Linked DNA regions of Homo sapiens: region 2 is linked to region 1. The links come from fine-mapping of genetic effects on gene expression. Tissue or cell type: stomach. Region 1 holds a variant in brackets; the other region holds the start of a gene. All regions are shown on one strand. Distances are between the middles of the regions.

Evidence for each region. PIP is the estimated chance that this variant, and not a neighbour inherited with it, causes the effect.
Region 2: it holds the start of RGL3, and the variant in region 1 is fine-mapped to the expression of RGL3 in stomach (GTEx, PIP 0.91).

Annotation. Positions count from the first base shown.
Region 1 is chr19:11,388,916-11,397,019 of GRCh38, forward strand. RGL3 (ral guanine nucleotide dissociation stimulator like 3) reads right to left here. Exons shown (of 19, transcript NM_001035223.4): 19 at 5,145-5,605. The coding sequence ends at 5,487. Among named protein-coding and RNA genes, the nearest start is that of EPOR, 8.7 kb to the left of the region's middle. The variant G/A (reference allele first, on the strand shown) is at 3,055.
Region 2 is chr19:11,415,861-11,421,772 of GRCh38, forward strand. RGL3 (ral guanine nucleotide dissociation stimulator like 3) reads right to left here and starts at 3,454. Exons shown (of 19, transcript NM_001035223.4): 1 at 3,386-3,454; 2 at 2,811-2,924; 3 at 976-1,199; 4 at 754-807; 5 at 77-288. The coding sequence starts at 3,418. ODAD3 (outer dynein arm docking complex subunit 3) reads right to left here. Exons shown (of 13, transcript NM_145045.5): 11 at 5,817-5,912; 12 at 5,268-5,352; 13 at 4,745-5,087. The coding sequence ends at 4,975. RefSeq lists an enhancer at 5,514-5,563.

The DNA.
Region 1 (8,104 bases):
CAAGACACTGTCTCTAAAAATAAATAAATAAGTAAATAAATAAATAAAATGTATAAAGTGAAAATAATGTCTACTCCATAGAGCTATGGTAAGGATTAAATTAGATTGTGTCAAGTTCTTTTTCTTTTTCTTTTTTTTTGAGATGGAGTTTCGCTCTTGTCACCCAGGCTGGAGTGCAATGGCACAATCTCGGCTCACTGCAACCTCCGCCTCCCAGGTTCAAGTGATTCTCCTGCCTCAGCCTCCCGAATAGCTGGGATTACAGGCATGTACCACCACACTCCGCTAATTTTGTATTTTTAGTAGAGACGGGTTTCTCCATGTTGAGGCTGGTCTCGAACTCCTGACCTCAGGTGATCCGCCCGCCTCGGCCTCCCAAAGTGTTGGGATTACAGGCGTGAGCCACCGCGCCTGGCCCCTGTGTCAAGTTCTTAAAACAGTATCTTGACATACAATAAGCATTCAGTAAGTATAGCAATTTGCTTAAACTAGTTCAAGAAGGATGCTGAACTAACATCCAAATGATCTTAAGAGGCTGGATGCGGTGGCTCATGCCTGTAATCCCAACACTTTGGGATTTGGGAGACAGAGGAAAAAAATACCCATTTGGGCAAAAAATATCCAAATTGTCTTAAGGTCTTTCTTTTCTTTTTCTTTTCTTTTCTTTTTTTTTTTTTTTTTGAGACAAAGTCTTTCTTTGTCACCCAGGCTGGCGTACAGTGGTGCAATCTCGGCTCACTGCAACCTCCGACTCCCGGGTTCAAGCGATTCTGTCCTGCCTCAGTCTCCTGAGTAGCTGGGATTACAGGCGTGCACCACCACGCCTGGCTAATTTTTGTATTTTTAGTAGGGATGGGGTTTCACCATGTTGGTCAGGCTGGTCTCGAACTCCTGACCTCATGATCCACCTGACTCGGCCTCCCAAAGTGCTGGATTACAGGCATAAGCCACTGTGCCTGGCTGGTCTTAAGGTCTTAATACTCACAGAAGACCAAAATTTAAAAAAAGCCTGTAAAGGAGCGGCAAGGCACAGTGGCTCACACCTGTAATCCCAGCATTTTGGGAGGCCAAGGCAGGTGGATCATCAGGCCAGGAGTTCGAGACCAGCCTGACCAAAATGGTGAAACCCCGTCTCTACTAAAAATACAAAAATTAGCCAGGCGTGGTGACACACGCCTGTTATCCTACCTACTCAAGAGGCTGAGACAGGAGAATCGCTTGAACTGGGGAGGCGGAAGTTGCAGTAAGCCAAGTTCTCGCCATTGCACTCCAGCCTGGGCGACAAAGCAAGACTCTGTCTCAAAAAAAAAAAAAAAAAAAAGCATGTTGTGTGCTAGTAATTGGTCTTTCATCAGACCTTATATGATACTTAAATTTCTGTATCTCTACTCCCAACCCACATAATTCCTGGGCATTCCTCATTATTGCTCCAGGGATAATGTTTGAAAACCTAGTGATTATTTTTTGCCCATTCACCAGAACTCCCCCTTCTCCTCATAACAGCCCCCACATTTAATGTCCACTTATGGACTCTCCCAGGCTCCACCCCTGTGATTCAAAGTTTCTGTGCCAGCTCAAAGGGTGGGCGCAGGACCCAGGCCTGGCTAATCAGCACATCTCATTCCCCTGAACACAGTGATTGGTTTAGAGGTGGACACATGACACAAATTGGCCCAATGGGCGCCTGCTCTGGGACTTTTTGCTGGAGCTGATGGGAAGGAGGGGCTCTGCTTGCATGGGATGGGGGAGCTGTTGGGATATAAGCCTATGCCTCCACAAGGTATGAGCCTGCCTTGGAGTAGAGCTATATATATATATATGTGTGTGTATTTTTTTTTTTTTTTTTTTTTTTGTAGAGACGGAGTCTTGCTCTGTCTCCCAGGCTGGAGTGCAGTGGAGCGATCTCGGCTCACTGCAACCTCCGCCTTCCAGGTTCAAGCAATTCTCTCGCCTCAGCCTCCCAAGTAGCTGGGATTACAGGTGCATGCCACCACACCCAGCTATGAGTACAGCTATATTAAATAAAATATTATTTGGGCTACTGTAACAGCAACTCAAATAATAGTGGCTTAAGTAAGATAAAAATTTATTTCTCTTTTATGTAACACTCCAAGTATCAACAGTCCAATATGGTAGCTCCCTGGTCTCATAGGCCCAGGCTCCTTCTAGCTTGTTGCTCAGCTATTCAGACAGTGTGAACCACCTAATCCAAAATGATCCACTCCACGTCTTCATTCCCACCAGCAGGAGGGAGGAAAGGGGGAAAAGAAGGACACACCGCTTCCCTTTAAGGGCAGGTTCTGAAATTTGTTCACATCCTTTCCCTTTATATCTTATTGGCCAAGACTTAGCCAGTGGCCAGATATGACCACACCTTGCTGCAGAGGAGGTGGGAAATATGGCTTTTACTTTGGGAGGCCAGCTAAAAATCAGTGGTTCCATTACCATAGAAGAAGGTGATTAAATTTGAGGGGACAATGGACTATCTCATTCTCAGAGCAAATCAGAGCAAAGAGACAGCAAGAAAACCCTGATGACATCTTATGAGTGCCTGGATGCAACTGTGCCTGAAGCCCTACTCATTGGACATTTCAACTGCATAAGCCACAAATGTCCTTTTTTGCACATGCCTCTTTGAATTGGGTTTTTGGTCGCTTGCAACAGAAAGAACTCGATTAGTGCAATGAGATGTAAAGACCATAGCTGATGTTCTCTGCTGAGTAGGAGCTCATAAGTGGGCATATTATTGTGGTTGTGACTATGTAGCAGTTCGCCCTACAGCTCATTTCATCCTCTCTATTGTACTCCAACGCTGACAGAGAGCTCACGCCTCTCTTTTCATCCTCACAATCCTTTTCTTTTTCTTTTTTTTTTTTTTCCAGACAGAATTTTGCTCTTGTTGCCCAGGCCGGAGTGCAGTGGAGCGATCTCGACTCACTGCAACCTCTGCCTGCCTGGTTCAGGTGATTATCCTGCCTCAGCCTACCGAGTAGCTGGGATTACAAGAGCCTGCCACCATGCCCGGCTAATTTTTTGTATATTTAGTAGAGAAGG[G/A]GTTTCACCATGTTGGCCAGGCTGGTTTTGGAATCCTGGCCTCAAGCAATCCACCCGTCTTGCCCCCCCAAAGTGCTAGAGCCACTGTGCCCAGCATTTTTTTTTTTTTTTTTGAGATACAGTCTCACTTTGTCACGCAGGCTGGAGTGCAATGGCATGATCTCGGTTCACTGCAACCTCCACCTTCTGGATTCAAGCAATTCTCCTGCCTCAGCCTCCTGAGTAACTGGGATTACAGGCACCCACCACCATGCCCAGCTAATTTTTATATTTTTTAGTAGGGACAGGGTTTTACCATGTTGGCCAGGCTGACCTTGAACTCCTGACCTCAAGTGATCCGCCCACCTCAGCCTCCCAAAATGATGGGATTACAGGTGTGAGCACTGCGCCTGGCCCTTTTTTTTGCTTTTTGAAACAGGATCTCGCTCTGTCACCCAGGCTGGAGTGCAGTAATCTCGGCTCACTGCAACCTCCACCTCTTGGGCTCAAGTGATCCTCGTGCTTCAGCCTCCAGAGTAGCTGAGACTACAGGTGCAGGACACCAAACCTGGCTAAATTTTATTTTATTTTTTGAGATGGAGTCTCCCTCTGTCGCCCAGACTGGAGTGCAGTGGTGCGATCTCGGCTCGCTGCAAGCTCCGCCTCCTGGGTTCACGCCATTCTCCTGCCTCAGCCTCCCGAGTAGCTGGGACTACAGGCGCCCGCCACCACGCCCGGCTAATTTTTTTGCATTTTTAGTAGAGACGGGGTTTCACCTAGCCAGGATGGTCTCGATCTCCTGACCTCATGATCCGCCTGCCTCAGCCTCCCAAGTGCTGGGATTACAGGCGTGAGCCACCGCGCCTGGCCAATCTTTGTATTTTTTTGTAGAAATGGGGTCTCACTATGTTGCCCAGGCTGGTCTCAAACTCCTGGGCTCAAAATCCTTCCACCTTAGCCTCCCAAAGTGCTGGGATTACAGATGTGAGCCACCACACCCAACCTCTTTTTCTCTTCTTTGCACAGATGGGTTATCTGTGACAGGAAGAGGAAGAAGGTGAGGGCAAGTGAAAGGGCCCATCCTCACAGCCCTTATTGACTCATGGGTAATGATGCTATTTGTTTCTAATTCTGATGGAATTTCAGTTAGTCACTCTCCCATATATACAGTAGAAAAGAGGCATATCACCCCAAAAATGTTGGGGAAGGAAGTCCTAAACCCTCTTTGTGTGATAGGATCCTTTATTTATTTATTTAGTGAGATGTGATCTCACTGTATTGCCCAGGCTGCTCTCGGACTCCTGAACTTAAGCAATCCTCTTACCTCAGCCTCCCAAAGTACTGGGATTACCCTCCTGAGCCACTGTGTCCGGCCAGACAGGATCCTCTCTGGCATCTGGGTTGAGTGTCATACCCGACTCAACACCTTTCTTAGGGCTCTTAGTTTTTTTGTTTTTGAGACAGGATCTCCCTCTGTCCTCCAGGTTGGAGTGCAGGGGCCCAGTCACTGCTCACTGCAGCTTCAACCTCCCAGGGCTCTGGTGATTCTCCCAGCTCAGCCTCCCAAGTAGGTAGGATTACAGTCTCATATCACCACACTCAGAAAATTTTTTGTTTGTTCATTTGTTTGTTTGTTTGTTTTTGAGATAGGGTCTTGCTCTGTCACCCAGGCTGGAGTACAGTGGTGTGATTTCCACTCACTGCAACCTCCACCTTCCGGGTTCAAGCAATTCTCCTGCCTCAGCCTCCCCAGTAGCTGGGATTACAGGTGCATGACACCACGCCCGGCTAATTTTTTGTACTTTTAGAAGATGGGGTTTTGCCATGTCGGCCAGGCTGGTCTCGAACTCCTGACCTCAGGCGATCTGCCTGCCTTGGCCTCCCAAAACGCTGGGATTACAGGCGTGAGTCACCACGCCCAGCCAAATTTTTGTATTTTTTGTAGAGACAGGATCTCGTTATGTTGCCCGGGCTGGTCTTGGCTCTTAGGTTTCTCTCTCTCTGTGTGTTTGTGTGTGTGTGTGTGGGTGTGTGTGTGGTAGCTGTTTTCCTTTATCTTGATAAAGGGTGAACATGGCACACAGGCGCAAAATAAACAAGACTGACACCTGTTTCATAACTCTGGTCACTATTTTCATCCGCATCTGTCACTTCTGATGCGTCTCTAACATTTATAAGATTTCTCTGGGGAGGGATTTGACGTATCCATGCCCCACCTCTTTCTACATTTATGGGATTGAGCTCTCCACCAGCCACCCATGGGCTGATGTCTTTGGAATATGGATCTAGTACCAACAGAGTCAGAAAAAGAGATGGGGTCCAATGGGCTACAGTTGGGTGGTGGTCCTGGGATACACAGCACAGTGGCCTCTACTGGGGGATGGCAGCTTTCCAGGAGAAGAGTCGCAAGCTTGCCTGTGGGACTTGTGTCTTGTGGAGAGGACAGGGCTGCCTCAGCTTGGGGAGACAGACAGAGTGTTCCGGGTCCCCTCTTTCCGCCGCAGCATGAAGTCTCTGGGGGCGACTGGACTCATGGCATAGAAGACGTTGGCATTGTCAGGAATCAGGAGCACTGGTCAGGAGTGGAGATGGTGGTAATAGGCCCTCACAACCTTGTGTCACCCCCACAGAGGACCCGGGAGCCTCCTGCCACTCACCCGCGAACCTGAACAGCCATGGGTCCCTCTGCAGCTACTGCCAAGCCAAGCTCATTCTGCTGTCACTGGGAACCTGGACGACTTCTCACTTGAAAACTTGCACCACCTCATGCCTTCCCTTATCATAAGCCTGGGCAACCTCCTAATATTCTCCCCCTCACCATAGAGACAAGGCAACCTGCAGTAAAAGTTTGAGCAAACTGGCCGGGCGCGATGCCTCGTGCCTGTAATCCCAGCGCTTTGGGAGGCCGAAGTGGGTGGATCACTTGAGGTCAGGAATTCGAGACCAGTCTGGCCAACATGGTGAAACCCCGTCTCTACTAAAAATACCAAAAAAATGAGCTAGGCATGGTGGCACATGCCTGTAATCCCAGCTACTCGGAAGGCTGAGGCAGGAGAATCTCTTGAACCCAGGAGGTGGATGTTGCGGTGAGCCGAGATCCTGCCATTGCACTCCAGCCTGGGCAACAGCACGAGACTCCATCTCAAAAAAAAAAAAACAAAAACAAACAAAACCGACAACCTGCAGTAAAAGTTTGGGCAAACTTAGACCACCCTAGACCACCCCCCGCCAAACAACTTCCTGCTCACCCTACCCCTCCCCCACAACCACTCCCAGCCAATCCCATGCTGCTGTCACCATGAACTTGAATAACTTCCCACTTCCAGCCTGCACGAGCTTGTGGCCTCACACTCAACACCTGAACAACCACAAGCATCCTTTCCTAATATCCAGCCAACCTCATGCCATGTACTTCAGCGTGAATACGCTCAATCCCTTGCTTCTCCCTGTCAGACAGGACAATCTCATGCTTCCGCGGCTATCCATTTGCCTCTCTCCCGTCCCAAGTTCAGATAACTTCAGGGTCCCAGTGGTGAACAAACTTAGTTCTCACAAATCTAAGCCCAGATGCCCTTTAGTCTCCCATCCCATCAGGTTGAGCCTGAACAATCTCATGATGCTACAAACTTAAGATCAGACAAACTTCTACACTCCCTTCTCTCACTCGACCCTAGACAATCTATTTTTTCTTTTTTTTTGAGACGGAGTCTCACTCTGTCGCCAGGCTGGAGTGCAGTGGCGCAATCTTGGCTCACTGCAACCTTCACCTCCTGGGTTCAAGTGATTCTTCTGCCTCAGCCTCCTGAGTAGCTGGGACTATAGGCGCCTGCCACCATGCCTGGCTAATTTTTTGTATTTTTAGTAGAGACGAGGCTTCACCATGTTGGCCAGGATGGTCTCGATCTCTTGACTTCGTGATCCACCCGCCTCGGCCTCCCAAAGTGCTGGGATTACAGGCGTGAGCCACCATGCCCGGCCCCCTTTTTTTTTTTTAATTGAGACAGGGTCTTGCTCTGTCACCCAGGCTGGAGTGCAGTGGCGTGATCTCAGCTCGCTGCAGCCTCCACCTCCTAGGCTCAAGTGATCCTCCCACCTCAGCCTCCCCAGTAGTTGGAGTTGGGAATACAGGCACATGCCACCATGCTCAGCTAATCTCTCTCTCTCTCTCTCTCTCTCTCTCTCTCTCTCTATATATATATATATATATATATTTTTTTTTTTTTTTTTTTTTTTTTTTTGAGACAGAGTCTTGCTCAGTCGCCAGGCTGGAGTGCAGTGGTGCGATCTCGGCTCACTGCAACCTCCGCCTCCTGGGTTCAAGCGATTCTTCTGCCTCAGCCTCCCGAGTAGCTGAGACTACAGGCATGTGCCACCATGCCCAGCTAATTTTTTTGTATTTTTAGTAGAGACGGGGCTTCACCATGTTGGCCAGGCTGGTCTCGAACTCCTGACCTCAAGTGATCCACCCGCTTTGGCCTCCCAAAGTGCCGGGATTACAGGCGTTGAGCCACCGCACCCAGCCAATTTCTCTATTTTTTGTATAGATGGGGTCTCCTCATGTTGCCCAGGCTGGTCTCAAACTCCTGAGCTCAGACAATCCACCCACCTTGACCTCCCAAAGTGCTGGGATTACAGTTGTGAGCCACCATGCCCAGCCCATCCTACAAATTGAAGGTCAGAAACACTCCCTTCTGTCACTTGTCCGTGGACAGTCTTTTTTTTTTTTTTTTTTTTTAAACAGAGTCTCGCTCTGCTGCCCAGGCTGAAGTGCAGTGGTATGATCTCGGCTCACTGCAACCTCCGCCTCCCAGATTCAAGCAATTATTCTCCTGCCTCAGCCTCCTGAGTAGCTGGGACTACAGGAGTGTGCCACCACACCCGACTAATTTTTGTATGTTTCGTAGAGACGGGGTTTCACCACGTTGGTCAGCCTGGTCTCAAACTCCTGACCTCAAGTGATCCGCCCAGCTTGACCTCCCAAAGTGCTGGGATTACAGACATGAGCCACTGCGCCTGGCCGGACCCTGGACAATCTTATTGTCTTTTAAATTTTAGGAAGATGACCTTTGGT
Region 2 (5,912 bases), 26 kb after region 1:
GGAGAGAAAGCCTGTGTGGGAAGAAGCAGACAGGAAAGGCCTTCTCAGAACACGACTGGATCTGAAAACCCCTCACCTGTCCACACCTGAGGCGGCTCCTCTTCCTGCTCTCGCTCAGCCTCCTCCAAAAAATCTTCCAGAAGCTTCTCTGCTTTTTGAGCCTCAGCACTCCCTGGGGCCGCCCAGCCCAGAAAGGTTCGGACACTGCCCAGGTCCGAATGGGCAGGGTGGTCTCGGAAATCCTGAGGGTGGTCCTGCAGCCAGGAGCCCAGCACTGACACCACAGCCCTGGCCAGAGAGGCAGGGTCTCAGAGCTGGGTCCAGAGTGGGGGACATAGAATATGACTCCTGGTACCTTTTTTTTTTTTTTTTTTTTGAGATAGAGTCTTACTGTGTCACCAAGGCTGCAGTGCAATGGCCTGATCTTGACTCACTGCAACCTCAGCCTCCCGAGTAGCTGGGACTACAGGCATGCGCCACCACACCCAGCTACCTTTTTTTGTTGTTGTTGTATTTTTAGTAGAGACAGGGTTTCGCCATATTGGCCAGGATGGTCTCTAACTCCTGACCTCCAGTGATCCACCTGCCTCGGCCTCCCAAAGTGTTGGGATTACAGGCATGAGCCACCACGCCCCACCTGACTCCCAGTCTCTTATTACCCAACCTGCAATTTTCAAAACCCCAGTCCGACTGCTAACCTTTGACCTCTTGGATTTCCCTCCCCGCACTCCCCTATCTGGATGAAGGACCCACCTCAGGTTCTTGTTGAAGCTCAGATCTTGTACCGCTGTCTTCTTGATCTCTACCCTGGGAAGAGGCCCCCCAGCAGGTGAAGAAGGGGGAACCTAGAGGGGGCTTAGGAAGAGGGCTCTGGGTCTGGGAGGTGTTTCCAGGTTCCACACCTGAGGAGGTGGAGGGGGGTGCCCAGTTGGGGTTCTAGGGTGGAGAATACGGAGGTTATGGTTCGCTACTGACCCGGGAGGTGGGGGCGGTGGCATTGGTGGCAGCAGAAAGCCCAGCAGGCAGGCAGTGGGTACAAAGGTCCGGTAGGTGGCCAGGAAGGCGGGCATGAAGCTGGGGTCCTGCTCACGGTCTCCAAACACCAACTCTCCCACCAGCCGCTCCAGGCGCGCTGCCCTCAGCACCCTCACCTTGCTGGTTCGATAGTGGAGGAAGGTATTGGCAATGGGGCTGGGAGCCTGCAGGAGGGGAGAGGTGGCCATGAGAGAGCAGGAGTGGTCCTCACAGCACCCCTTCTCTAGTCACATTCATCACTAGCACCACTCTTTTTTTTTTTGTTTTTTTTTTTGAGACAGAGTCTCACTCTGTTGCCCAGGCTGGAGTGCAGTGGCACGATCTTGGGTCACTTCAACTTCTGCCTCCTGGGTTCAAGCAATCCTCCTTCCTCAGCCTCCAAGTAGCTGAAACTACAGGCGCACACCACCAAGCCCAGCTAATTTTTGTATTTTTGTAGAGATAGGGTTTCACCATGTTGGTCAGACTGGTCTCGAACTCCTGACCTCAAGTAATCTGCCCCCCTTGGCCTCCCAAAGTCTCCCAAAGGGCTAGGATTACAGGCGTGAACCACCGTGCCCAGCCCCTAGCACCACTTTTTTTTTTTTTTTTTTGAGACAGAATCTCACTCTGTCACCTAGGCTGGAGTTCAGTGGCGTGATCTTGGCTCACTGCAACCTCCGCCTCCTGGGTTCAAGCAATTCTCTGCCTCAGCCTCCCAAGTATCTGGGATTACAGGCACCCGCCACCAAGCCCAGCTAGTTTTTTCGTATTTTTAGTAGAGACGGTGTTTCACCGTCTTGGCCAGGTTGGTCTTGAACTCCTGACCTGATGATCCACTTGCCTCGGCCTCCCAAAGTGCTGGGATTACAGGCGTGAGCCACCTCGCCCCGCCTGTAGCACCATTCTTTCATGTGATTCCTCTGTCTCCCGGCTTCTTGGAGTTATTGTTTTGGTTTGTTTTTTTTAGAAACAGGTCTTGTTTTGTTGCCCAGGCTGGGGTGCAGTGGCACAATCATAGCTCACTGCAGCCTCCAAGTCCTAGACTCAAGCGGTCCCTCTGCCCCAGCCTCCTGAGTAGCTGGGACCACTGCTGGGCATCATCACGCACAGCTAGTTTTTTAATTTTTATTTTTATTAGAGAGAATCTTGCTGTGTTGTCCAGGCTGGTCTCCAATTCCTGGCCTTCTGCCTTGGTCTCTCGAAGCGCAGGGATTATAGGTGTGTGCCCCACTCCCTGCCCGCTTGAAGTTATTGTTCCTCCCCATCCACAAATAGCTCCTGCAACTTGCCCTGGAAACCCTCCCTCTCCCATGCCCTGTCCCCTACTCCCTCTCCCGTCCCCTCCCCCTCCCGTCCCCTCCCCCCACCCCCCCGCCCCCGCCCCACACACTCTTTTCCACCCAGGGCTTCCCTCAGCCCTCCTGTCGCGCTTCACTGGCTGCCCCATCCGCCCTCACCTAGCCACTTCTAAACCAACCCCATTCCACCTTCCAGCCCCGGCCCTCTAAACCTGCCTTTCCCAACTCTGCCGTCCAGTTCTGTCCTTACCAAGTTGTCCCTAGGCTCCTCTCGGGAACTGCGCGGCCATCGCCTGGCCCCACCCCATTCCCTGGATCTCCCCCCACTTACCTGGCCGCCCCCAGTCCCCTTTCTACCTGGTCGCCTCATCTGGTCGCCTCCGAGCCCCTCCCTTCCTTCCGCCCACTGCACCTGGCGGCCTGTGCTCGGCTCTCCAGCTCCGCCCTCAACTGGTCGCTTCCGGCCCCGCGCCACCCACCAAACCCCCTCCTCACCTGGCTGCCCCCGGGGCCCTCCGCCGGGCTCCTGCGCTGACTGCGCTGCCGCCGCAGGGAGACACTGTACACCGCGCCGTCCTCGGTCTCTTCACCCCAGTCCTGCAGCGGTGCCTGGACGCACAGGCGGACTCAGGGCACCAAAGGGGCACAGGTCCTGGGGCCTCAGCCTCCTTGGCCGCTCGGACTCGGGCCGAGTCCTCCTGCTGCATCCCCACGCCCCTTCCCGGCCAGAAGCTGCGAGACTAGGGCTGGGGTCCCAGGCTAGTCCCCTCCTCGCTGCGGGTCCCCTCCTCCCAGGTCCTGAGGACATGGGGTGGCATTTGGGGATGTCCCAGGGCCCAGTCTAATAGAACCTGTCTCTAGCTCTTTCTGCCGACTGCGCTCAGAGACTCGCGCCCCCATCCCTAAGAGGAACCAGTCGCTTCACTGGGTCAAGGGCCGCGAGTCCCCAGGAGGGGACTCCAGGGCAAGTTCAGATTGGGAGCAGATACCGTCCGACGGGCGGGCGCTTGGAGTTTCTGGACCTGCGGGTCACCAGGGATGCGGGGTCCGGGGATCCCTTGTCCCCTTACCAGGGCCAGCTCTTTGCCTGCTGTGCGCTCCATGGCCGGCGCCCGTCCCTCTCAGTGGCGCCGCTGAGTGAGGCGGAAGGGCCGGCGGGTGGCGGGTGGCGGGCGGCGGGCAGTGGCCGGGCGCTGAGGCCAGAGGGGCGGAGCGGCCGAGCTGCTGGGGCGGGGCGGGGCAGGGCAGGCCGGACCCAGCCTCTGGGTGCCTCCAGCCGGACCCAGCGCCAGCCCAGGAGAGGTCCTGGCTCTTCCGCTGGGTGCCTATCAATCTGTCCCCAGAAGAAAGGACATATCTGTCCCCAAGGGGTCTTTTTTGTATCCCCAGATGTGGGGGAGCTCCTGTGTGGGGGCATGTGTGTGTCCCCAGACCAGAGTCCTCTGTCCTCCAGTGGAAGGGGCTAGCTTGATCAAGTGTGGGGGCATCTTCCACTTTTTATTATTATTGCTATTATTTTGAGATGGAGTCTCGTTCTGTCACCCATGCTGGAGTACAGTGGCTTGATCTTAACTCACTGCAACCTCCGCCTCCCAGATTCAAAGGATTCTTGTGCCTCAGCCTCCCAAGTAGCTAGGATTACAGGTGCCGCCACCATGCTCAGCTAATTTTTGTATTTTTTGTAGAGGCGGGGTTTTGCCATACTTGCCAGGCTGGTCTCAAACTCCTGGCCTCAAGAGATTCGCCCACCTCAGCCTCCCAAAATGCTGGGATTACAGGCATGAACCACGGCGCCCAGCCTTATTATTTTTTAGAGACAGGGTCTCACTCCTGTTGCCAAGGCTGCAGTGCAGTGGCTTGATCTTGGCTCACTGCAATCTCCGCCTCCTGGGTTCAATCCATTCTCCTGCCTCAGTCTCCCAAGTAGCTGGGACTACAGGCATATGCCACCATGCTCAGCTTTTTTTTTTTTTTTTTTTTTTTTTTTTTTTTTTTTGGTAAAAACTGGTTTTCACCATGTTGCCCAGGCTAGTCTGGAACCCCTGGGCTCAAGCGACACACCCAGCTCAGCCTCCCAAAGTGCTGGGAATATAGGTATGAATGAGCCACTGCACCCCGCCCTTATTTTATTTATTGAGACAGGGTCTGGCTCTGTGGCCCAGGCTGGAGTGCAGTAGCACGATCATAGCTCACTGCAGCCTGGAGCTCCTGGACTCAAGTGATCCTCCCAACTCAGCCTCCCAAAATACTGGGATTACAGGCATAAAACCACTACATCGGGCCATCTCCCATTTTTAAGCTCCATCTGCGTCACTAGCTGATGGGAGTCATCATGACCCAGGTTGGAGGAGGCAGTCTGTGGCCCTGGGTTTTCAGGGACAGCCGTCTCTTGGGTGGTGCAGGGTCAAAAACAGATGAATACCCAGGGGCATGGTCGGTAACATTTATTGCGCAACTCTGAGGCCGGGGCGGACCCAGCTGGGGAGATTTACTGTGGGAACGTCTGGCCCGGCCCCTTCCTCCCCTCCGGGCGCCGCTGGCCGCCTCCGTTCCCGGTCCGGGCCGCGTTCAGCCCCTGAAGGGGCCCCGTGGGGCCTGCGCTAGACCCGGAGGGATCGGGGGCTCCGAAGGGGGCCGCCTGGTGGGTGTCAGGACGAGTCTAGGACCTCCGAGAGCGACGGTGCTTCTTGTGACTTTCGATTAATTTCTGGGAACGGATCTTGAGTGATGCGCGGGTCACTACCTCGTTGTCCTCCTCCTCACTCTCTTCGTCTAAGGGGGGTGGGGGGATGAGCAGGGAGCGATGTGGGATCCAGGTCCCCATCCCTGGCTCCCCTTCCCTTTACCACCCCACTCCACCCCCACCTTGGCCCTGAACAGGGTATCTGACAACCTCCTGCTACCCAGCTTGGGGCCCCAACCGCACCCCTTCATCCCCCCACCCATACTGACCAAAAAACTTGTCCTTGGAAGTGGCAAGGGGCAGGGCGATGCGGGTGTTGTATTCGGGCAGCCTTCCCTCTAAGCTGGCGAGGAACTAAGCGGGGATGGGAAGCGAGAGAGGAAGGTGGGCGGGGCCAGGGGCCACCGAGAAGTCACGTTCCCCCTCCTCCCTACCCCATTCCGAGATATGCCCTAGTTCCAACTGGAGACCACTGCCCACTCCCATCCCTCCTTAAGCAGGCACCTTGATACCCAGCTTCACCCCCTCATCACTCAGGTCCGCCCCTGGTCTCTGGGGCCCTGCCACTAGGCCTCTCCCCATCCGGATACCCCAGCCGCGTCCTCTAGCCTCACAGGACCCGCCTGCACCTCTTCTGGTTTCTTCCCTCGTGGCTCGGGCTCACCCCTGGCTCGTCAAACCTCGCCCGTTGTCCCCGAGACCCCTTCCTGGCTGATCAGCCTGCAATCTGGTCTCCCGAAGTTGCCCCCGGTTCCCTGGTTTTCCGACCCAGCCCTACTCCTAGATCTCTGGAGCTCTGCCCCATGGCTGCAGGGCACCTCGCGGTTAGCGATGTGGCACAGCATCTCCTGCACGTCGTGGCCCTGGAGCTGCGCCTGCAGTTTCAGCAGCTTTTCCTCCACGAGGCCCAGCAG